Linked DNA regions of Homo sapiens. The protein of the gene in region 6 purifies or fractionates together with the protein of the main gene of each other region. This does not show direct contact. Each region holds a gene or a part of one and is shown on either strand. Other genes may lie near its edges.

What was found.
Region 1: the proteins of LLPH (region 6) and ZNF184 purify together in Homo sapiens (affinity purification with mass spectrometry; one large-scale study listed by BioGRID and IntAct). This does not show direct contact.
Region 2: the proteins of LLPH (region 6) and HP1BP3 purify together in Homo sapiens (affinity purification with mass spectrometry; one large-scale study listed by BioGRID and IntAct). This does not show direct contact.
Region 3: the proteins of LLPH (region 6) and RBM19 purify together in Homo sapiens (affinity purification with mass spectrometry; one large-scale study listed by BioGRID and IntAct). This does not show direct contact.
Region 4: the proteins of LLPH (region 6) and PUM3 purify together in Homo sapiens (affinity purification with mass spectrometry; one large-scale study listed by BioGRID and IntAct). This does not show direct contact.
Region 5: the proteins of LLPH (region 6) and SRSF12 purify together in Homo sapiens (affinity purification with mass spectrometry; one large-scale study listed by BioGRID and IntAct). This does not show direct contact.
Region 7: the proteins of LLPH (region 6) and ZNF354A purify together in Homo sapiens (affinity purification with mass spectrometry; one large-scale study listed by BioGRID and IntAct). This does not show direct contact.

The regions. Positions count from the first base shown.
Region 1 is NC_000006.12:27,450,247-27,453,176, reverse strand, and holds the end of ZNF184 (zinc finger protein 184), read left to right. Parts: coding exon 1-1,874; 3' UTR 1,875-2,430; downstream 2,431-2,930. UniProt on the Homo sapiens protein: May be involved in transcriptional regulation.
Region 2 is NC_000001.11:20,780,808-20,784,307, forward strand, and holds part of HP1BP3 (heterochromatin protein 1-binding protein 3), read right to left. Parts: intron 1-3,500. UniProt on the Homo sapiens protein: Component of heterochromatin that maintains heterochromatin integrity during G1/S progression and regulates the duration of G1 phase to critically influence cell proliferative capacity.
Region 3 is NC_000012.12:113,945,826-113,949,325, reverse strand, and holds part of RBM19 (probable RNA-binding protein 19), read left to right. Parts: intron 1-289; coding exon 290-493; intron 494-1,861; coding exon 1,862-1,992; intron 1,993-2,850; coding exon 2,851-2,972; intron 2,973-3,401; coding exon 3,402-3,498; intron 3,499-3,500. UniProt on the Homo sapiens protein: Plays a role in embryo pre-implantation development.
Region 4 is NC_000009.12:2,809,596-2,813,095, forward strand, and holds part of PUM3 (pumilio homolog 3), read right to left. Parts: intron 2,768-3,500; coding exon 2,625-2,767; intron 1,989-2,624; coding exon 1,766-1,988; intron 837-1,765; coding exon 749-836; intron 1-748. UniProt on the Homo sapiens protein: Inhibits the poly(ADP-ribosyl)ation activity of PARP1 and the degradation of PARP1 by CASP3 following genotoxic stress. Binds to double-stranded RNA or DNA without sequence specificity. Involved in development of the eye and of primordial germ cells.
Region 5 is NC_000006.12:89,101,072-89,104,571, reverse strand, and holds part of SRSF12 (serine/arginine-rich splicing factor 12), read left to right. Parts: intron 1-3,500. UniProt on the Homo sapiens protein: Splicing factor that seems to antagonize SR proteins in pre-mRNA splicing regulation.
Region 6 is NC_000012.12:66,120,751-66,124,250, forward strand, and holds part of LLPH (protein LLP homolog), read right to left. Parts: intron 3,269-3,500; coding exon 3,090-3,268; 3' UTR 1-3,089. UniProt on the Homo sapiens protein: In hippocampal neurons, regulates dendritic and spine growth and synaptic transmission.
Region 7 is NC_000005.10:178,720,660-178,724,159, reverse strand, and holds part of ZNF354A (zinc finger protein 354A), read left to right. Parts: intron 1-3,500.

The DNA.
Region 1 (2,930 bases), on a different chromosome or scaffold from region 6:
AAAAACACAAAAGAGATGATTCTTGGAGTTCCAACTTGCTAGAAAGTTGGGAATATGAAGGCAGTTTAGAGAGACAGCAGGCAAACCAACAGACACTGCCAAAGGAAATAAAGGTAACCGAAAAGACAATACCCAGTTGGGAAAAAGGCCCTGTAAATAATGAATTTGGGAAAAGTGTCAATGTGAGTTCAAACCTTGTAACACAAGAACCATCTCCAGAAGAGACCTCTACTAAAAGAAGCATCAAACAGAATTCAAACCCAGTTAAAAAAGAGAAATCTTGTAAGTGCAATGAATGTGGGAAAGCCTTTAGTTATTGTTCAGCTCTTATTCGCCATCAGAGAACACATACTGGAGAAAAACCCTACAAATGTAATGAATGTGAAAAAGCCTTCAGCCGGAGTGAAAACCTTATAAACCATCAAAGAATTCATACTGGAGATAAACCATATAAATGTGATCAGTGTGGAAAAGGCTTCATTGAGGGTCCATCTCTTACTCAACATCAAAGAATTCATACTGGAGAAAAACCATATAAATGTGATGAATGTGGGAAAGCCTTTAGTCAGAGGACCCATCTTGTTCAGCATCAGAGAATTCATACTGGCGAGAAGCCATACACTTGTAATGAGTGTGGAAAAGCCTTTAGCCAGAGAGGCCACTTTATGGAACATCAGAAAATTCATACGGGAGAAAAACCTTTTAAATGTGATGAATGTGATAAAACCTTCACCAGGAGCACACACCTTACTCAACATCAAAAAATTCATACTGGAGAAAAAACCTATAAATGTAATGAATGTGGAAAGGCCTTCAACGGGCCCTCAACTTTTATCCGTCATCATATGATTCATACTGGTGAAAAACCGTACGAATGCAATGAATGTGGGAAAGCCTTCAGCCAGCACTCAAACCTCACTCAGCATCAAAAAACTCATACTGGGGAGAAACCCTATGATTGTGCAGAATGTGGAAAATCTTTTAGTTACTGGTCATCCCTTGCTCAACACCTGAAAATTCATACTGGAGAAAAACCTTACAAATGCAATGAATGTGGAAAGGCCTTCAGTTACTGCTCATCCCTTACTCAACATCGGAGAATTCACACGAGAGAAAAGCCCTTTGAATGCAGTGAATGTGGAAAGGCTTTCAGTTATCTCTCAAACCTTAATCAGCATCAGAAAACTCATACTCAAGAGAAAGCTTATGAATGTAAAGAATGTGGGAAAGCTTTTATTCGGAGTTCATCTCTTGCTAAGCATGAAAGAATTCATACTGGAGAGAAACCCTATCAGTGTCATGAATGTGGGAAAACCTTCAGTTATGGTTCATCCCTTATTCAGCATAGGAAGATCCATACTGGAGAACGACCTTACAAGTGTAATGAGTGTGGGAGAGCATTCAACCAGAACATACACCTTACACAGCATAAGAGAATTCATACAGGAGCCAAGCCTTATGAGTGTGCTGAGTGTGGTAAAGCCTTTCGACATTGTTCATCTCTTGCTCAACATCAAAAAACTCACACAGAAGAAAAACCCTACCAGTGTAATAAATGTGAAAAGACCTTTAGCCAGAGCTCCCATCTAACTCAGCATCAACGAATTCACACTGGGGAGAAGCCCTATAAGTGCAATGAATGTGACAAAGCCTTTAGCCGGAGCACTCATCTGACTGAACATCAGAATACTCATACTGGAGAGAAACCTTATAACTGTAATGAATGCAGAAAGACTTTTAGCCAGAGCACATATCTCATTCAGCACCAGAGAATTCATTCAGGAGAGAAGCCTTTTGGATGTAATGATTGTGGAAAATCCTTCAGATATCGCTCTGCTCTCAACAAACATCAGAGACTGCATCCTGGCATATGACAATTCTAGGAACATCATAAATTTAGGGGAGATATTTACTTTAGTTTGTCCTTTTGTTAAGTACTGAAGAATCAGAGTGGATTTAGAAACTGCCTTGAAATCTTTTAAATTTTCACTATCATGTTATGGAATGGAAAGTACATTGGGCTGAACTAATCCAATTGTTATTAAGCCACTCTGTGACATTAGAAAACTCTACTGTTTTAAGCTTTAGTTTCCTTTATGGAATGAAGGATTTGGAGTAGATTATTTCAAAGGTAGTTTGGAGTTTTATAATCAGTTTTGTATATTTACAATATTTTCTTGAATGGGTTTACTATACATCAGCATTTTGCTGTGTTGCATCTAGAATGTGTATGTTTATGCATGTTTTGCCAATAGAATTTGTGCTTCAGTAACTAGATCGGGGATCTAGTATGCTCCTGGTCTAATGCATTTACATTGTTTAGGTAACTGGTTCCTAATAAAAAGAATTATAAAATACCCTCAAATTAACAATTCAATTGCATATAATAGCCTAACTCAGTAAGAATATTAAAACTTACTATTATTCTTCTTCTAGTCTGTTTTTAATATTCTAGGAGTTTACCACAACTATAGAATTCCACTTCTACAACTTAAACTGGTGTTATTTTACCCTGGTTGCATATTGGAGTCACCTGGTGTCTTAATTTGTGCTGTTATGTTAAATTACAATAGACTAGGTATCTTAAACAATAGAAATTTGTTTAAAGCTGGAAGAGGCTGGGAAGTCCAAGATCAAGGTACTAGCAGATCCAGTGTCAGATGAAGGCCCATTTCCGTTTGCAGACACCTCTCTTCTTCTTGTGTTCCTACATGGTGCTAAGCAGAGACAGAGCAACCTCTCATATCTCTTTATAAGACTACTAATCCCATTGGTGAGGGCTCTACCCTTATGACCTAATCACCTCCCAAAGGCCCCCCTCCTAATACCATCACATTGCAGATTAGGCTTTCAACATAGAAATTTGGAGAGAACATATTAAGTCCATAACACCTGGAGAACCCTATAAAATTATCTTGCCAAGGCCCTAC
Region 2 (3,500 bases), on a different chromosome or scaffold from region 6:
CCCATCCCCTCCTGCCACCATCAGGAACTTAGAAGGATAGAATAAAGAGACTAAGGAACAGTTAGTCAAAGATCAGTTTACCAAGAGAAGGCTTTTGTTGTTACTGTTCTCGAAAGAGTCAGGAAAATTAACTGTAATCTTAAACTCTATCTCTATTAAAGTACTTTTTTTTTCCTTCTATTAAGGGAAAACACAAGGGGAAAAATACTGCTGAATAACATGACATTCTAATAGCTTCCAGACCCACAGAAGCAAATTTAGACCATCACCTAGGAGAATAAAAGTATGCTTCTAAGACTGTCATATTTTTAATGTAAGGAAAACTAGTACAGAAGAATATAATTAAATATTCAAAGATAAAAACCCATGCAGTCACCCAAGTTTACCTGATCACTAACACCCCCTCTTCCCCAAAAATCTCATCTGAGACTCAATGACATTTTATACAAAAATTCCTCAATATAAAAAAAAAAGACCACTTAAGTATCTAGATCTCTGTGCTAATGAACTATTAACAATGAGTAGGGAATGACAGTCATGCAACTTCTACATTAAGGTCTAACCTTGTCTAAGAATTGAAGAGCTTTCAACTTGGCAAGTAACAGTCCCAACCTACAACAACTAGGATAAATCCGGAAGATTGAAACAAAGAGGATGCATTCACACTTATCGGGAAAATATTTTTATGGGAACACCAAGAACAATACCAGACTTGTCAATTGTCAGTCAGCTGCAAGGAAATCTTTCAGTCAGCTGAAAGAATTCAGTGCAGTGTAACACACTCATACTTAGGGAACCAGAATATCCATTAATATTAAATTTTTTTTTTCTTTTTTTGAGACGGAGTCTTGCTCTGTTGCCCAGGCTGGAGTGCGGTGGCACGATCTCAGCTCGCTGCAACCTCCGCCTCCTTGGTTCAAGCGATTCTCCTGCCTCACCTTCCTGAGTAGCTGGGATTACAGGCATGCGCCACCATGCCCAGCTAATTTTGTATTTTTAGTAGAGATGGGGTTTCACCATGTTGGTCAGGCTGGTCTCGAGCTCCTGATCTCAGATGATCTGCCCGCCTCAGCCTCCCAAAGTGCTGGGATGGCAGGCGTGACCCACCGCACCCGGCCCATTTTTCTTAATGATAAAAAGCCTTATGCAAATCTGCTGGTATTTTTACATGCAAATATGATATGGAAATAAAACAATATCACAATCAGGTTATCCTTAGTAAAGTTATATTGCTAATGAATTTATCTTTCTTAACCCACGATAACACTAGCTAGGCTGAAAATGCTACCGTGAAGTCAACAACCTTCAGGAGTCTCCGTTCATAGGCATCTTTAAAAAAATACTTTCCCATTTGGTGTAGTAGCTCATGCCTGCAACCCCAGCACTTTGGGAGGCAGAGGTGGGAGGATCCCTTGAAGCTAGAAATTCAAAACTAGCCTAGTCAACATTAGACTTGGTCTTTACCAAAAGTAAATAAATTAAAATTTAAAAACAGGCCAGGTGTGGTGGCTCACACCTGTAATCCCAGCACTTTGGGAGGCTAAGGTAGGAGGTTCACTCGAGCCCAGGAGTTCAAGACCAGCCTGGGCAATACAGACGTTGTCTCTAAAAAAAAAAAATTAAAAATCAGCTGGGAATGGTGGCATGCGCCTGTAGTCCCAGCTACTTGGGAAGCTGAGACTGGGAGGACTGCTTGAGCCCAGAAGGTTTTGGATGCAGTAACCTGAAATCGAGCCACTGCATTCCAGCCTAGGTGACAGAGCAGAGCCTGCCTCAAGAAAAAAAAATAATAATTTAAAAAAAAACACAAAAGGGCCAGGCATGGTGGCTCACGCCTGTATCTCAGCACTTTGGGAGGCCGAGGCGGATAGATCACAAGGTCAGGAGTTCGAGACCAGCCTGGCCAGTATGGTGAAACCCCGTCTCTACTAAAAATACAAAAATTAGCCGGGTGTGGTGGTGCGCGCCTGTAATCCCAGATACTTGGGAGGCTGAGGCAGAAGAATCACTTGAACCTGGGAGGCGGAGATTGCAGTGAGCCGAGATTGTGCCACTGCACTCCAGCCTGGGCGACAGAGCAAGACTCCTTCTCAAAAAAAAGAAAAAAAAAAAAAAAAAAAGAAAGAAAAAACCCACACACACAAAAGATAAAAAATTAGCTGGTCACTGTGGCACATGCCCGTAGTCCCAGCTACTTGGAAGACTGAGATGGGAGGACTGCCAGTGTCCAGGAGTTCCAGGCTACAGTGAGCTAGAATTGCACCACGGCACTCCAGTCTGGGTGACAGAGTAAGACCTTGGCTCAATAATAATAATAATAATAATAAAAGTTGAATGAACAAAGACATCTGGTAGTACTTATGACTACATTCATTATGTGTGAAGAACACTTAAAACCCAGTTATTTGGGATAAATATTAAGAGACGTTAGGGCTGGGTACAGTGGCTCATGCCTGTAATCCCAGCACTTTGGTAGGCTGAGGCAGGGATCACCTGAGGTCAGGAGTCCGAGACCAGCCTGGCCAACATGGTGAAACCCCATCTCTACTAAAAACACAAAAGTTAGCCAGGCGCTGTGGTGTACACCTGTAGTCTCAGCTACTCAGGAGGCTGAGGGAGAAGAATCACTTGAACCTGGGAGGCGGAGGTTGCAGTGACCTGAGATCATGCCACTGCACTCCAAGCCTGGGTGAAGAGTGAGACTCCATCTCAAAAAACAAACAACAACAATTTAAAAAAAAAACAAAAAAAATAGAGATGTTAGAGCTCTGCATTTCCTTAGTAAAAGCTGTAGAACTTCAAAGGTTCAATCTGTAGTACTTTCTTTAGAATAGTTGGGTTAGTCCCAGCTACTCGGGAGGCTCAGGCAGGAGAATCACTTGAACCCGGGAATCCGAAGTTGCAGTGAGCCGAGATCATGCCACTGCACTCCAGCCTGGGTAACAGTGTGAGACTCTGTCTCAAAAAAAAAAAAAAAAAAAAAAAAAGAGATGTTAGCCTCAGCTCTGCATTTCCTTAATAAAAGTCAAAGTCATAGAACTTCAAAGCTTCAATCTGTAGTACCTGCTTTAGAATAGTTGGGTTAATTGGCTATTTAATAAACTCACTGTTCATTACAGAGCTAAGTATATGCAACGTTAATTCACACTGCCTTAACATCACTGTACCTATGTTTTTTGTTTGTTTGTTTTAAGACACGGTCTCACTCTGATGCTCAGGTTGTAGTATCACAGCTCACTGCAGCCTCAACCTCCCAGGCTCAAGCGACTCTCCCACCTTAGTCTCCCTAGTAGCTGGGACTACAGGCACGCACCGCCATGCCCGGCTAATTTTTCTCTTTTTTGTATCAACAGGGTTTTGCCATGTTGCCCAGGCTGGTCACAAACTCCTGGGCTCAAGCGATCCATCTGCCTCGGCCTCTCAACGTGTTGGGATTACAGGTGTAAGCCACTGCATCTGACCCAGTGTACCTATTAACTAAACTTTTTACTATTGCACTC
Region 3 (3,500 bases), about 48 Mb from region 6:
GAATACAGCCCGGAGTTTAGAGAATGCATCACCGTGGTCTGGGATAACTCAGGCAGGCTCCCTCCAGGGCTGAAGCTGAACTGGCAGGGTGAGTGAGATTTGGGTTCAGGCCTGGTGTTGGCTTGGCTTATGCTGCCGCCTCAGGTGACAGGGCAGGTGTTGGGTGCTGTCATCTGCCACCTTGATTGTGTTTTTTGGAAGGCAGCAGAGAAGAGTTTGGAGTCACCAGCAAGGAGTTGCTGGCAAGTTCTAGGCCTCCCCCTGGAGCCCTGACTCCTCTTCATTGCAGGTGGGCGCTACATCGAGGTGTTCAGGGAAAAGAACGTCCCCACCACCAAGGGTGCACCAAAGAATACCACCAAATCCTGGCAAGGCCGGATACTCGGGGAGAACGAAGAGGAGGAGGACCTGGCCGAATCCGGAAGGCTCTTTGTACGGAACCTGCCCTACACCAGCACCGAGGAGGATCTGGAGAAGCTCTTCTCCAAATATGGTAGGGGTGTGGCCTCCGGGCCGTGGATAGCCCAGCGGCTATGGGAGCCGGGCTCTCACTCTGACGTCCTGGGTTCAAGTCCCAGTGTGCACACGACTCCACATCTCTTGCCTCAGTTTTCTCATCTGTAAAATGGGACCAAGTACCCCTGAGCTGCTGTGAGGATTCAGTGACATGATGAATGCAGGGATTCGCAGGGCAGGAAGTAAAAGGTATTAATAGCATCACTGGCATCCTTTGCTGTCTGAACTCTCTAACTTCTCCAAATTCAGAATTGAAGCAATTCGGATGACTTTTTTGAGATACTCCCTTGCTGTCCAAAGTCATGCCACTCGGTATTGGAATTGAGTAACTGTACAGGTTTCACCTGATGAATATACCTACACGGCGTTCCTCCGTATCTGAACTCTTAATTATGTAAAGTCTTCTTATCCAAGCTGAGCACCAAATAGATTTGATAGTGTCAAGGTTAGTGTTGTTGTTGCTGTTATTTCTCAGGCCATGGGCTTGAGGGCCTGTAGTCCAGCTTGGTCACAACAGGCTGTGTTTGTTTGTGGAGTTACCATTGTTGAAGGGCAGGAAGGGAGGGTTCAGGATGAGGGGAGGTCTTGATACCTTTGAGATCCCCGCAGTGTCTCCCCATGTCTATTCAGAGGCCAGCTGTAGGTTGTGGAGGATTGGAGATGTAGGTTGAACACCTGATGTGGGCCCCGTTGTCAGGGTAAGGATGCCCTGAGTGGAGCATGCCATCAGGAAAATTGACCTGACCTCCAAGCCTGGGGCCTGCCCCAGTGGAACTGTGTGTTCCATTCACCAGTCTGCTCACCATATCCTTCACACAGGCTGGCATCCCGGCTTACACCTCATGGGTGGGCTGAGGGGGAGAAGCATTTGTCGATATATTGCAAATGTCCATTTGGGAAGGAAAGACCCAGAGAGGGGACGCGGTCACACCCTGGCATTCAGAGTTGAAACCAATGCAGAAAGGGTGTGCTTTAATTTGAGCATGATGCTAATATCATCATGGAAGACACTTCTTTGGCACTAACTCTAGCAGGCACTGTTTAGTGCACTATGCACGCATGAACGCATTTAGCCCATGAGCTAGGTACTGTTGTGCTGTTTTACAGATGAAAAGACTGAGGCATGGGGAGGCTTAGTGATTTGCTCAAGGCAAGCTTCATGTGTAATAGGTGGTGGTGCTGGGCTCCAGCCCAGGTATTGTTGCTGTTAGGATAGACACACGTAGGGGACTGGGAAATGACACCCATGACCTGTGAGGTTGGCTCACAGCTGGTGCTCACCACATTCTTCCCTGGGGCCAAGTGGCTGCGGCCTACCAGAGACCGACACTTCTCCTGTCCTCAGGTCCCCTGTCTGAGCTCCACTACCCCATCGACAGCCTGACCAAGAAACCCAAGGGTTTTGCATTCATCACCTTCATGTTCCCTGAGCACGCTGTGAAGGCCTACTCGGAGGTGGACGGGCAGGTATTCCAGGTGAGGCCCCGTCCTGGGCTGGCCAGGAGGCTGTGGGGCTCACATGGTCGGGAAAGGCTGGTGTGTGTGTGTGTGTATGTGTGTGGACACGGGCGTCCACTTTGTGGGCCTAAGAAAATGTGCAATGGCATGCTAAGTCACTGCCTCACTCAAGCCACTGGAGAGTAAGAAGTCGTGTGAGGGCACGGTCTGATCTGTTCTGGTCACTGATCTGTGGCACCTACACCTCTGTCTGGCACTTAGCAGGCACTGAAAAAATACTCCTTGAATGGATGAATTTGCTCTCCATCTCTATAGATACCACCTTAGAAGAGGAGTAAGAAGAAAAGAATTTTGACAGGGACCTATTAAAATGGCCACAGTGGAATAAAAGAAACTTCTCTTTTCCCAGTGTTACCAAGTAATATACTTAGCATACATCCTCAAGCCCCAGGCTGCCTCATCATCACCCTTTTTCCTTTTCTCATTCATTCATTGATTTATTCATGATTTCTTGATCCCCTTGTTGCCATCAGGCCAGACCTGGCCCCACCGGCATGGACCTCACATTCTTACTCACTGGTGCAGGGACAGGATGCGATGCAGGCTTGAGAGGCGGGGAGAGGGCTGCGGGTGCGGGGTTATACACTGATCGAAGTTTTGTGTGTGTAGCTGTGTCAGGTGGCCCCCTCACGACATCAGGATCCTGTGTCAGGTGGGAAGAGAGTGGCCACGTTCTACCTGACCTCCCTCCCACCCTCTGGTCAGGGTTTCAGTGCTGGGTCCAGCTTACTCGTGGCAGAAGCCAACATCCTTCGGCAGGAAGCAGGGCTTACAGGCAAGGCTTCTGTTTACTCCCTTCCCGTCATTCCCATCCAGGGCAGGATGCTCCACGTGTTACCATCTACCATCAAGAAGGAAGCCAGCGAGGATGCCAGTGCCCTGGGATCGTCGTCCTACAAGAAGAAGAAGGAGGCCCAGGACAAAGCCAACAGTGCCAGGTCCTCAGTGCCCCTGAAACCACTGAGCTCCAACCCCAACCCTCTGCCACCCTCACCCTGCCCTTTCTAAGCCACCTGGGTCTTCTGACTCCTGATGGGTTTAGTTCATACCTTACCGAGCTTCAGTTTTCTCATCTGTAAAATGGGAGAATAATAGTAGTGCCTTACTTTTATGGTGCTGTAAGGTTTAAATGAGTGAATGTATGTGAAGTTCTTAGTCCCTGACACAGATGAAGCACTGTTAGGGATGGTTCCTGTCATCATCCGTCTTGTTGTCTTCAGGCCCTGTATACGTAGCCCATGATAGGGAAATTGGGGGCATGTAGATAGGCAGGCCTAGGAGCCCATTTCTTACAGGATTCGTGTCTGAGAACGAGTTCCCCTCATCCAGCTGCGGTCTGATCTCCCTGTTCTGCCTCTGCCTCTTAGCTCTCACAACTGGAACACACTATTCATGGGGCCGAATGCCGTGGCCGATGCCATCGCACAGAAGTACAACGCCACCAAGAGTCAAGTGTTTGACCACGT
Region 4 (3,500 bases), on a different chromosome or scaffold from region 6:
CTGTCACTTTTTTCCAGACATTGTAATGAAAAGCCCAAACTGTTTTAACTCAGTAGGGGAAAAAAATCTCTCCAGTGGTTTAAATACCAGATGGAATTTGGATTTTGTAAGTGAAGGTCTGGTTGGAGATAGGACTGAGAGGGGAATGGCATGCAAATGCTAATGCTGTCCTTCTCTAGAGAGCTGAGTTTCTACAGAGCAGCTGTAAGGCTTACAAAAAACCAGAAAGCGCCAAAGACTGGCTTACTCTTTGGTCACATGTATTTCAATGCCAAATAAACAGGCACTAGTCCAAAACTCTCTTACGAGGATAATCTTCTTCTGCTTATTCTTTCTTCAAACATAGAGATAAATGTCATGCCTTTCTACTGAGGTAATGATACTCAACAATTGGGGCCCCCTACCCCCTCTCACCATCCTCATTAGAATGGCATTTTAAGGCATTGACCAAGCCAGGTTAGAAGCCTGCAGCAGCACAGGAAGGAAAACAGAGAGAGTGAGGGGGCGGTGGGGGGGGCTGGCGGGGGGGGTTTGGAAAAAAGAAAATTAAAAGAGTTCTCAGGCACAAATATTTCTAGGGGAAAAAGCATTACCAGCAACCACTGAATCATTTCTTATTCACAGACACCATTTCTAGACACTTGGCAAACTTCATTTGAGCTTAAATGGCTGGTATAAAGTTCAGGGATGCCAGGAATTACTGGAATTCCACATGAGATACAAGAAAAGGTCAAATTTCATAGCCTACCTTCTCTCCCATTTTCTTTCATCTTTTTATCTTGCTCTATTAACCACTTCAGAACTAGATGTCCTGCAGGATGTTCTGCAATGTGAAGCTATGAAGGGTCAAGAACAGTTAATTTTAAAAGTTGTTTTCATTCATACAAATACATTTGAATGAATACATACTATTTATGCCACCACATACAGATAAGGACTCAGCCACTTTTAAAGTTCCACAGGCTTAAGAGGTCTTTATCTAGGACAACCATCATACTTGGGGGGACCACAGATCTATTCTGATCCCCAGACTGAAAGACAGTTATGCCAGATAACACAGCCACGGCACAGCGCTTCAGTCTCCGCTTCATTTAATCTGCTCTGAACAGTAGCAGCACAAGGCTCATCTTAATGCTAATCACGTCTTGGATTGAAATATGTCATTCTCAGACACAAATAAACCTACAGGACAGAACACTATAGCACAAACATCAAAACCCAATGCTGCATGCTGTTTAAGTACACATGACCACCGAAGGGGATTATCTGATGAGCGAATCAAGAAAGCATCTTTTCAGCTCAACCTTACTCCTCTTCAAGAGCAATACCAAGCGTTCCCAGTTATTTGGGCTACTCCTTAGCAAGTATGGGAGGCAACCGGCTCAGTCTCCTTATAGAGAAACTTTCAAGGTACATTCATCTTTCCCATTTGTTAATATGGTCAGGAGCCAGGGCTTCTCTAAGATCCATGGCCCACTTCTCTTCCCCAATCGCAGGTGTCAGAAGCACCTTGGGCACTCAATACTTGGCAATGATTTCATTCATAAGCAAATTCACATCTGTAAAACATTCCCAAGTACCAGGCTTTGACCCAGATGGTTAGAGAAAATTAAAGATGAATGTAATTGCTGCTGTGAGAGGTTCTTGGTTGTTTATTCAACAGGTATCTCCCTCCCCAGCTTTCTTACTGACACCCCACATCGTCCAAAAACGAAGTTTTTGTGGCCTTTGCAGCTTTCCTGCCTGTGCTTTAATGGCACATTACCTCTCCGTCCTTGCCACCAGGATGCAGTCCTGTTGCTGCCAAGCTGGCGATGGCATTCATGGTAGGCTGAACGTCTCCAGTGGCAGATCCCAGAATGTCAGACACCAACACACACGCAGACTTATCTAGCACCACTTCTTGGGCGTGTTCTTGCAGGTAGCTTAACAAAGCTGGAGAAATGGATTCTAGGAGCTCCCGTCTGCGGACCTCTGTATCTTTCTTACTGTTGAGTATGTTGAACGGGGTATTAAGGTAAGATAAATCGCAAAGGAAATGTGGTGATATTATCACAAAAACCTCTAAGAGCTTATCACAGACTGTATCGCACTCTATTATTATTGTCTATCTTTCTGTTAAGCATGTAGACAATAAGTGATACGAGTATGTGTTCTGTTTTTAAAAATGTTTGTGTCCCACGATCTGAATAGTGCCTGGCACAGAACAAGGGCTCAATAAAGGGAGTCTGACTTGTGTAATACCAAAAAAAAAAAAAAAAAAATCCAAAAACCAAATAACATACCCAGAAAACAACACATTTACACTGCTGTATGGACACCATACTCTAGGGTACTCAAATATGTGGTATCGGTAGCTTTGAAAATAAAGCAAAATAAAAGCCAAACCACGCACTTGAATGCCTACTATGTGCCAGGTGCTCAGGTGTTCTTTTGGCACGACACTTTTATTTCCTTGTCAAGATAAAAACTTTAGAATCTGTCAAAAATATAGGCTTGAAAATGGAATTCACCTTTTCAGCAGTTTTAGAGAGGGTATGGATGGGTAAGTGGACTTCTGGAAGAATGCACTACTCAACATTAACAGAGGAATAAAGAAGTCAAGCCATTCTACTTGGTTTTACCTGTGTGCATTTCCATCTCCTTTTTGCAGAACTTCAATGATTTCTCGTACTGTATGTGCAGGATCTCTGGGGCTTAGTAAGTACAATAGGACCTTCCTTCCATATTTGTCATTTACTATGCTAGGCAATGAACTGATAATTTCCTATAAAATTATAAACAAAAAAAAAGAATCAATATCTGCATTCTCAAAACAAAGTACCACAGGACCTTTCTTCCATATTTGCCATTTACTATGCTAAGCAAGGAACTGATAATTTCCTATAAAATTATAGTATATGTGCTGCCAAAGTGAGCACAATGTCCTATAAAATTATAAACAACAACAAAAAAATGAATTGATATCTACATTCTTAAAATAAAGTATGCCTAGAATTTCAATGGTGAAGAATACATACTTAACTACTATTTTTCCCAGCGTACTTCATGGAAAATGTGGAGCTAGTTCTGAAATTGTGTCATTAAAGCACACAGAGATTTACATTTAGAACACAGAATCAATTCTCTTTTGTGACTAGCATTACTGAACAACTCATTTGTATTAACTGACCAAGCCCAAGGACTTAAAAAATATTTAAAGGTGTTATCTTCATTCATTATGGCCAGTATTTCTTGGGCCACTATTACTAGGGACATCACTTGCTGAGGTCACTGAGTAGAGGCAGTTAACTTGCAGCTGCATTTAAATGTAGCACCGGCATGAATGAAGAACACTTCTATTAGAATTTCCCTGCTGAGATGTATGTGAAAGGAGATAAAGAAACTCTGTTAAATCGAACAAGTGGATAAAGGCTTTTAAAGTTAGGTTGCTTATTCATGGCAAATGAAGGCTGTTTAGCTACCGCAATGAAAAACAAAAACAGAAGAGGAGGGGAAAC
Region 5 (3,500 bases), on a different chromosome or scaffold from region 6:
TGAGCAGAAAAAAAAAGTAAAAAAAAATACATACTCAGCCGCGTGCAGTGGCTCACACTTATGATCCCAGCACTTTGAGAGGCTGAGGTGGGCAGATCTCGAGGTCAGGAGTTCAAGACCAAACTGACCAACATGATGAAACCCCGCCTCTACTAAAAATACAAAAATTAGCTGGGTGTGGTAGCCACGCACCTGTAATCCCAGCTACTCAGGAGGTTGAGGCAGGAGAATCACTTGAACCTGGGAGGCGGAGGTTGCAGTGAGCTGAGATCACGCCATTGCACTCCAGCCTGAGCGACAGAGCGAGACTCCGTCTCAAAACAAAAAGCAAAAAAAAAAAAAAAAAAAGGTGATGAGTTTTAGATAAATAAAATTTTCCTAAATGTGCCCAACAGTTTGTAATCTTCAACTTTAAAAATGTTTAAATGTGTAAGAAATACAATAAAATGTCCAGGTGCCATAATCTCAGCACTTTGGGAGGCTGAGGTGGGAGTATCACTTGAGGCCAGGAGTTTGAGACTAGCCTGGCCAACATGGTGAGACTCCGTCTCTCCAAAAAAAAAAAAAAAAAAAAAAAAAAGAAATATAATAAAATCCCTTGTGAAAGGTGGTTGACTAAAGTTAATGTAAATCAATTTACTTATAAAAGATAAGTTATCAAGAATAAATTCCAAGTATGGCAGTATTGAAGAAGACATATTAAATAGTAATTTGGGGGCAGGGGAAAAGATATTTTCAAGTTATTTATTTTGCTAGCCAGGAGTTTATTTCTATTAGAATAATAGTGAATCACAACAGAAATTAATTATATGGACCAGGTGCAGTGGCTCACGCCTGTAATCCCAGCACTTTGGGAGGCCAAGGCGGGTGGATTACTTGAGGTCAGGAGTTCAAGACCATCCTGAGCAATATGGTGAAATCCTGTCTCTACTAAAAATTCAGGCCAGGCGCAGTGGCTTACGCCTGTAATCCCAGCACTTTGGGAGGCCAGGGCGGGGGCGGATCACCTGAGGTCAGGAGTTCGAGACCAGTCTGGCCAACATGGCGAAACCCCGTGTCTACTAAAAATACAAAAATTAGGTGGGTGTGGTGGCACAGGCCTGTAATCCCAGCTACTTGGGAGGCTGAGGCAGGAGAATCGCTTGAACCTGGGAGGCAGAGGTTGCAGTGAGCTGAGATCACGCCACTGCTCTCCAGCCTGGGTGACAAAGCGAGACTCTGTCTCAAAAAAAAAAAAAAAGAATTTAAATTGATTGTTTCTAAATGCATTACAGCCTTAGTGAACCAGTTTTTTTCTCTTGCTTGATTTAAATAAGGTGGATATTCACATCATTTTCTGCCTTCTAGTGGAAGTAAAGTATAATACTTGACTGTCTCAAATCATCCTGGAGTATCAGGGATGGAAGGACCACATCTTTCAGGGCAATGCTATTCTGCTTTGTACTTGTTATAAGACCATTGCTTAACCTCCCTGACACCAGTTTTTCTCATTTTAAAAACTGTCTTATGGCCAGGTGCAGTGGCTCACACCTGTGATCCCAGCACTCTGGGAGGCCAGGGTGAGATCACTTGAGTCCAGGAATTTGAGAGACCAGCCTGGGCAACATAGTGAGACCCCCATGTCTACAAAAACTAAAAAAAATTAGCCACGTGTGGTGGCACACACCTGTTCCAGCTACTGGGAGGGAGGGAGAGGGTGGACTGAGGTGTGAGGACTCCTTGAGCCCAGTAGGTCAAGGCTGCAGTGAGCCATGATTGCACCACTGCACTCCAACCTGGGCAACAGAGGAAGACTCTGTCTCACAACAAATAAATAAATAAATTATTAAAATGTAAAAAAAGGTATTCTGTAAATCTTTGTTAACTTTATATCAAGGAATGTGTATGTTAGAACTCTAAATGTTCCTGAACAGTGTTAAAATTGCTCCTCAACTCCCTTTTCTTTAGTCCAAATATATTATAGCGTCCTTCTTTTACTATGTTAGGATTTTTTTTCAAGGACATTTTCTTCATTTTGCTTCCTACAGCTGTCTACAAAATGAATGAAATTTAATAATTTCTAAAAGACTGTGAATTTATTCCAGAATATATTCTACATCAATGTATTTTCAGTATAAATATATAATAAAAAATTCAAGAGAGGCCAGGTGCAGTGGCTCATGCCTGTCATCTCAGCACTTTGGGAGGCTGAGGCAGGTGACTTGAGGTCAGACATGCCTGGCCAACATGGCGAAACCCCATCTCTACTAAAAATACAAAAATTAGCCAGGTATGGTGGCACGTGCCTGTAATCCCAGCTACTTGGGAGGTTGAGGCAGGAGAATCGCTTGAACCCGGGAGACAGAGGTTGCAGTGAGCCAAGCTCGCCCCACTGCACTCCAGCCTGAGTGACAGAGCAAGACTCTGTCTCAGAAACAAACAAACAAAACCAAAAATTGAAGAGGCTCTACATGGTGTTATCATTCTCCAAAGAAAGCTTTTTAAATTTCTTCATCTAGTTCAATGTTACTATCTAGTATCATTTTTCTTCAGTCTAAAGAATATTTAGTATTTCTTTTTTTCCTCTTTCAGCTCACCGAGAAGTACCAGGGCAGTGAATATTTAGTATTTCTTATAGTACACATCTGCTGATAGTGAATTATCTCAGCTTTTGTCTGAAAACATCTTTATTTAAAATTCATTTGTGAGAAATATTTTTGCTGAGGATAGAATTCTATATTGGCAGTGATTTTATTTTTCTCTTTAAAAATGTCATTCCATTGTTTTTCTGATACCCATAGTGAGTTGTCAGTCTTGTGGTTGCTCCTTTGAAAGAAATTTGTCTTTCATTCTCTGGCAAGGTTTTCAGATTTATTTTTATTTTTATTTTTTTTTGAGACAGAGTCTCACTCTGTCACCTGGGCTGGAGTGCAGTGGCACAATCTCGGCTCACTACAACCTCCGCCTCCCAGATTCAAGCGATTCTCCTGCCTCAGCCTCCCGCCACCACACCCAGCTAATTTTTGTATTTTTAGTAGAGGCGGAGTTTCTCCATGTTGGCCAGGCTGGTCTGGAACTCCTGACCTCAGGTGATCCACCTGCCTCAGCCTCCCAAAGTGCTGGGATGACAGGCATGAGCCACCGCACCCGGCCGGTTTTCAGATTTTTTCTTTGACTTTGGTTTTCATCAGTTTCACTGTGATGTGCCCAGTGTAGTTTTCTTTGCCTATGTGGGGTTTATTGAGCTTTTTGAAATTGTGAGTTAATGCTTTTTGTTAGTTTTGTAAAATTCTATGCTATTATCTCTTCAAATATTGCTTCTGCCTTATTCAGTCTTTCCTCTGGCTTGTGTGACTGTATGCTATACATCTGCTGTGTTCTTTTAGGGATTTCTTAAAATTCCTTTTCTCACACTGTATTTCGGTAGGATGTTTTTCTAATGATCTTTTAGTTAACTATTTCTTTTCTTTTTTTTTTTTTTTTGTCTTGGAGGTTTTCTCTTGTTGCCCAGGTTGGGGTGC
Region 6 (3,500 bases):
ATTTAAAAGATAAAAGGACTATGCTATACTTCTCGATTTGTAATCTTTAAAAATAAAGTGCCAAAGATGTGACCATACCCCTGCACTAATTTTGAAATGCTAGTCTAAATTTCCTGCCAATATTTGGAGGTGGGGAGAATCTTGCTGGTAGTGTTCAGGAACTCAGTGCCTTAGAGGGTACTGACAACACTGTGTCAGTAAACTTCTCTTCAGCAGTCGCCTTTCCAGAGGCCATGTGACACTTGAGAACATGATTCCCAAATATGTTTTCTGGTAATGGTGCTTTGATTTTTGATTTTGTTAACTTTCAAGTTAAATCCTGAATGGACAAACTTCATGACTGGACACAATGAAGTGAAAATCCTAACATCAGAGAGGCTCTGGATGAAAGCTCAAAGCTACTATCAACAGAATCAAATTAGAGGTTATCAGCCACAGAAAACATGAACATAACCCTGGCATTGGTCTCTACCTGACAATGCTGCCAAAATGTAAATAAGTGCCAACTGTGTAATATCACGAATGTAGACTTTTTTTTTTTTTTTTTTTGAGATGGAGTTTCGCTCTTCTTGCTCAGGCTGGAGTGCAATGGTGTGGTCTTGACTCACTGCAACCTCTGCCTCCCAGGTTCAAGCGATTCTCCTTCCTCAGCCTCCCAAGTAGCTGGGATTACAGGCACCTGCCACCATGCCCAGCTAACTTTGTATTTTTAGTAGAGACAGGGTTTCACCATGTTGGTCAGGCTGGTCTCAAACTCCTGACCTCAGGTGATCCATCTGCCTCAGCCTCCCAAATTGTTAGAATTTGGTGCCTGGCCCCCTTTTCCAAAAATCATAAAAAATGTCTACATTAGGCCGGGTGTGGTGGCTCACGCATGTAATCCCACCACTTTGGGAGGCTGGGGCAGGTGGATTACTTGAGTCCAGGAGTTTGAGACCAGCCTGGGCAACATGGCGAAACCCTGTCTCTACAAAAATACAAAAATTAGCTGGGCGTGGTGGCACCCACCTGTAGTCCCAGCTACTGGGGAGGCTGAGGTGGGAGAATCGCTTCAGCCTGGGAGGTGGAGGTTGCAGCGGAGCCACACTTGTGCCAATCACTCCAGCCTGGGTGACAGAGTGAGACCCCATCTCAAAAAAAAAAAAAAAAAAAACATAAATAATTCAGCTACTGTATTTAGGCTGATATTGTCAGTGGCTTAACTGGTTGTTTGCAATTTTTTTTATTTTATGAATAAAAATGTACATATTCACTTTTCCCTCACAAATGCTAGTGTTATTCATACCTACACCAAAGGCAACAAAGATCATGAATGACATCTTTCAATTCATATCTTTCTTAGCTGTTAAGAAATTTTAAGCATTTAAAGTTATCTACCAACTTTTCAATAAACTATTGAGAAAAATAAGAAAAGTCTACTATATTTAAACAATTCCAAGAGTTTACTGGCATCAAATTTTATAAGCTTAAATTTTCTGAAACATTTGGGTCATGTCCTCTTTATTACAATACATGTCCATGTATTGTGCCCCAATTTAGCAGTGTGCCTGGCACAAAGTTTGTGACCTCATGACCAAGTGGCCTTATTCTATTTCACATTTTACTTGAGTTCTCCTGGGAAGTTAACATCTTCTTCTAAACAGATACACAGCTCTCAGCCCTATGAGAGCAGAAATCTTATCTTATTCAATCTGTCCCAAGCATCTGGAAAGTCCCTGGCCCACATACTAGGCACTCAGTAAGTATTTGGTTGTTCCAGTTAACATATGAGATGGTTAATCTGATTATAGTGAAATTCAGAGGGAATGCTAAGTTTAGATTGCTTAACTAAAAGTAAAATAAAAATGAATTTAGCAAACTGTAGTAAGACAGATTTAACTAAAAATCATTTCTCAGAAAACTAGTTTCAAAGAGTAGACGCTAAACAGGTTTCTTTGCTGCTGGAACCCTGTAGGACTATTCTAATCCTAAACTAAAATCTTTTGTAAATCTTCAAGTATGTAGCATTTCCCAAATCGATGTGAACACAATTTATTTTTTTTAACCAAGCATCCAGAGGAAACTGATACTGAAGAACACACTCCGGGGAATGCTGCATGATACTATATTAGGCCACACAATATTAACACTAAAGAACATTAAATCAGTTTCCATGAAAAACCTGAAATGTTCTAATTTCCTAAAAAGCATACTGATTTGTATATGTTAATATTCTACCTAAAATTAAGATAAGAAAACATTTAATTGAAATCTGGTCTTCTCTAGGACTAAAAAACCTTAAGCATACATGAAAGAAAAAAAAATCAGACTTGAAGATCTACACACAAAATATCTTTTATTCTGTGGAATCAAAGCTCCACACAAGTACTTTATAAGATCCATTATTTTTTTTTTTTTTGAGACAGAGTCCTACTCCATTGCCCAGGGTGGAGTGCAGTGGGGCAATCTTGGCTCACTGCAACCTCCATCTCCTGGGTTCAAGCAATTATCCTGCCTCAGCCTCCCGAGTAGCTGGAACTACAGGTGCGCGCCCCCATGCCCGGCTAATTTTGTATTTTTAGTAGAGATGGGGTTTCACTGTATTAGCCAGGCTAGTCTCGAACTGACCTCGTGATCCACCTGCCTCGGCCTCCCAAAGTGCTGGGATTACAGGTGTGAGCCACCATGCCCAGCCCTAATGTAGTATTTTTAAATGATATGATTATACAACAACTTTCTTTAAAATCTAAGTTCACAAAAATTTGTCAGTACATCATCTGTTTTATCTCTATTGACTATAATTACCAGTTGTAAGAACAATTCTAACCATATTAATACCTGACAGAACGTTGAGGCCTGATTATAACTGGATATTGGGTAGCATCCAGTTAAAGTATCAGTAGAGCTTGGATGTATCAAAGAAAATATTTTATTCAAGTTCCCAAAACAAACTTGAGGAGTTATGCTGGGTTTGAATTGAAGAAAAAAGGCCAAGTTAAAATAGGAAAACAAATGGTTTTCATTTGGTGGCAGTTGAAATCAAAGTATACATGTGTATACATTCTAATCCGTCATCTATCCCATGTGGCATTTTCCAAGGTTTTAAGAGTCTACCAGGCCAAACCCTTTGCCACTTTCACTGCTTTTGCTTTGCTTTTCCCCTTTCTTTTCTCTCGCTTTGCCTTCAGCCTTTTTCTTTGCCTTTGGTTCATCCATATTGGGTACTGTCCATGCTGGTCTAGAAGAGTCTTTTTGTTTCTCTTAATATCAGTCTCCATTTTCATGTCATCTGCATAAAAAGATGGAAAAACTATTAACACCATGTATGAAAAAAACCACCCTGTGAAAGCATATTAATGCACTGAGAACATCAGAACATTAGAACTGAAGGTAGACCGAAAATAGAGAAGAAAAAAACTTTATAAAGAATGTTGGCATGACTGTCCTTCCTTAGAATAGTAATGTTAAATAGGAAACATTTAGGATGCATGGCTCTGAGTTAGTACATTAGTAGATATATG
Region 7 (3,500 bases), on a different chromosome or scaffold from region 6:
CACTTGCCGTGAGTTCGTGAGGGAGGAGGCGGCGCCCACGTGATCAGGGTACAGGAGCAGTTGGGTGTGGGATGGATTTCACTTGAGATGTGAGTGAAGTCGTCAGGTGGGGAACCCTGGTGGGCAGGTGTGTAAGTGACAGGGCCGAGACTCAAGGGAGGTCAGGGAGCCCATTAGCATGATGGGCATTAGAAGCTTGGAGCTGGCCAGGTGAGGGGGCCAAGTGGAGGCCCGAATTTCAGGAAACAGCATTTGCGAGGTGCTTAAGCAGGAGGAATCTGACAGAGCCCGAGAAGTAATCAGAGTAGAGAAACGGGGAGGGGCCATCGTGGCAGTGGGGGACTGAGAGTGGTTGAACTGGGGGGGCTCTGGCTCTGGGGGATCAAGGTTGAACCCTCGCCCACAGCTTTGTATAGCATTGGGCAGAAAGGGACACAGGTCTCCTGCTTCTGGAGTGCACGATCTAGTGGGGGACAAGGTGAACACACTCATTGCACACAAGGCACAGAAGGACACATTCCAGTGAGGACCACGTGGGAAAGACACTCGGTGCTGTGAGAGTGCAGAGCAGGCAGGTGGCGTCAGCAAAGGCTTCCCTGTGGAAGGGCCTGGGATCAAAGGACTGAAGAATTGCTCAGGCCTAAAGAAAGGTGTTCATGAAGGTCCAGAGAAGCAAAGCCAGCGAGGAGAAGGTGGAGCACCCGAGAGAGAGCCACGGGCCCTGTCACAGGGTTTGGTTGGTGCTTGAGAGCCAGGCACAGGTTCTGAGGAGCCGTAAGTAGCCCAGGGCAGGCCTAGGCTGCTTTCTGCAGCCGCCAGCCCATGTGGAGAACCTGACGGCCACAGTGCAGGGCTTGTCAGGTCCAGAGGGCTCAGTGATGGCCCCTTATGCCATGGGCCCAGCAAGGAGCTGCAGGGCAGGCAGCCTCGGTCCCCACAGCCCCTGTGCTGGGGAGAGCTTTCTCCTCCCTGAAGAAAGGTGAGATTTTTTTATATGGGAACCACACTTGTTTATCTTTTTAACTCTCCTTTGGGAGAAATACACTACGTGGTCTGGCCCTGGCTACCTCTTCACTCTCAGCTCCTTCCACTCTGCCCTTCATTCGAGGCCTCTGATCACCCTTGGCCGCCCTGCAGTGTGTCATGGGGGGCGCCAAGCAGGCCCCCACTCAGGGCCTCTGCCCTGCTTTTTCTGTCTGGGACTGTTCTTCGTGGCGGTCATGCGTCCATGTGGCTCGCTCACTTCCTTGTGCTGCACAGGCTTCGGCTCACACAGGCACAGATCATCTGACACGCAGCCCTGCAGCCCCCACGCCATCTCCTCACCGTGCTTTATTTTCCCTCCTCGTGCTTAGCGCTGTGTAATAGATCTGTTTCTTCATGATCTGTCTCTGCCTCTGCATTGTAAGCTGCTGTGGGAGGGGTTGCCTGTTTCATTCACTCCTGTTTTCCAAGAACCTAAAACAGTCCCTGGCCAGGGTATGCGTCCAGTTGTATAATGAATGCACGAGTGACTTGGACTAGGTTAGTGGTGTTGGAGACAGAAAGAAGTGAACCAGTCCCAGGGATGTCCAGGAGATACAGCCAGCAGGACTGTTAGACATGGAAGATAGAGGAGATGGGGTAACAAAGAAAATAAAAGCAAACAAAAGGGAGATGGGGTTGTCAGGGATGCTTGCTTGGTTTCTGGTTTGTTCTGTGACGGTTGGTGATGTCATTCAGTGAGATAGGAACACTAGAAGGAGATCAGATTTGGAGATGATGTAAATTTGGTTTTAGATTAATTGAGCTGTTTTTGGTTGACCTAGTTATCCCAGTGGCGATGACAAGTAGTGTTGATTTCGGAGTACAGTACCTCAAAATGTAGACTGAGCTTGAAATGTAAATTTGGGAGAACCTGATCAATATAGGGTGATTGAAATAATGGGAGAGGATGAGTTGGCCTAGGGAGAGTGTTCACATTACAGTAAGAGTAAGAAAGAGCCTAAGACTGAATCTTGAGGAACTCCAGCATTTCAGGAAGCCAGGCAGAGAGAAATGAACCCATAGGGAAGACAGGTAAAAGCGTACTGTAAGGAAAATCAGGAGAGGCAGGTGACATTGGAGGCAAGGCTCATGATGGAATGGTAGCAGTAGATGGGGAAAAGTAGACGAATGTGAGGCAGATTTAGATGGCAGAATAAACAGGTCTTGGTAATTGATTAGATGAGGGGGCTGAGGGAGGGAGAATTATTAAGGATAACTCTTAAGGTTTTGATTCAGAGGTGGTGCCATTTACAGAGACAAGGGGTTGACCAGGTCGGAGGGAAGAATCGTGAGTGTGGTTTTAGGTGTGTTGACTTTGAGGCATCTGAACTGCTCTTTTGAGTAGGTCGTCTGTAAGGGGGAGTCGAGTATGGGAGATATCTTGCTTAGAGGATGAGTCTATGATTGAAGTTGCCTGTGGAAAGATGCAGAGTGAGAAGAACTGGGGGCCTAGAACTAAAGCTAAGGCACTCCAAGGATGATAAACTGTGGTACGTCCACACAGCTGTAAAGTGGAATGAGGAGGACCTCTGTAACTTCTACTATGGAGTGATCTCCAGAATGTGAGAATAAGTGCAGAACAGCACAGTTAGTACTGTTATCTAAGAAAGGTGGGTGGGAATACCAAGAAAAGTGTGTGTGTATTTACTTACACTGTCATGGAGCACATAATGTTTCAGTCAATGATAGCCTACATATATGATGATGCTCCCATAGATGATAATACTGCATTTTTCCTGTCCCTTTTCTATGTTTTAATATGTTGAGATGCACAAATACTTACAATTGTGTTACAGTAGCCTACAGTATTCAGCTAAGTAACATGCTGTATAGGGGTATAGCCTAGGTGTGTAGTAGCCTATACCATCTAGATTTGTGTAACACACTCTGATGACTGCACAACATCGCCAACAACGCGTATCTCAGAACATATCCCAGTCATTAAGCAGTGCAATTATTTTTTTTAGAAAGATAAAAGCAAAAGAAAAAAAAGGAGATCAATAAAAATGGTTATCTCTAAGGTGAAGGAAGAAAAAGGATGGAACAGGGGTAGAATCTATGACTTTTTGAGGTCTCAAAATTTTGACTTCAGAACTATAAAAATGGTTTATAAAATTATAAGACAAAATTAAACAAAAATGAGAAAGTACCCCCTACATATTGAAAGCAGAATGAAACAACCCTAATTGTGTTCCAGGTTGGTGGCTTAGCCACAAAAAGAATTATTTGAATTGCCTTTACATTGCAGCAGTTTGACTTATTAGTGTAGGTATTCTAGGGGCAAAAGTAACTGCAAGCAGTGGTGTTAATTTTGATGGATGTGCTAAGAGCGGTTTTGATGTTTTTACAGATGAAATGATTTTGCTGTCTGGGATGTGCTCTAGCATAACCTAGTGGACGAGATGAAAGGGTTTGTGTTAGTTTGCTAGGGCTCCATACTGAAGTACCACAAGCTTCGTGGCTTAAAACAGTAG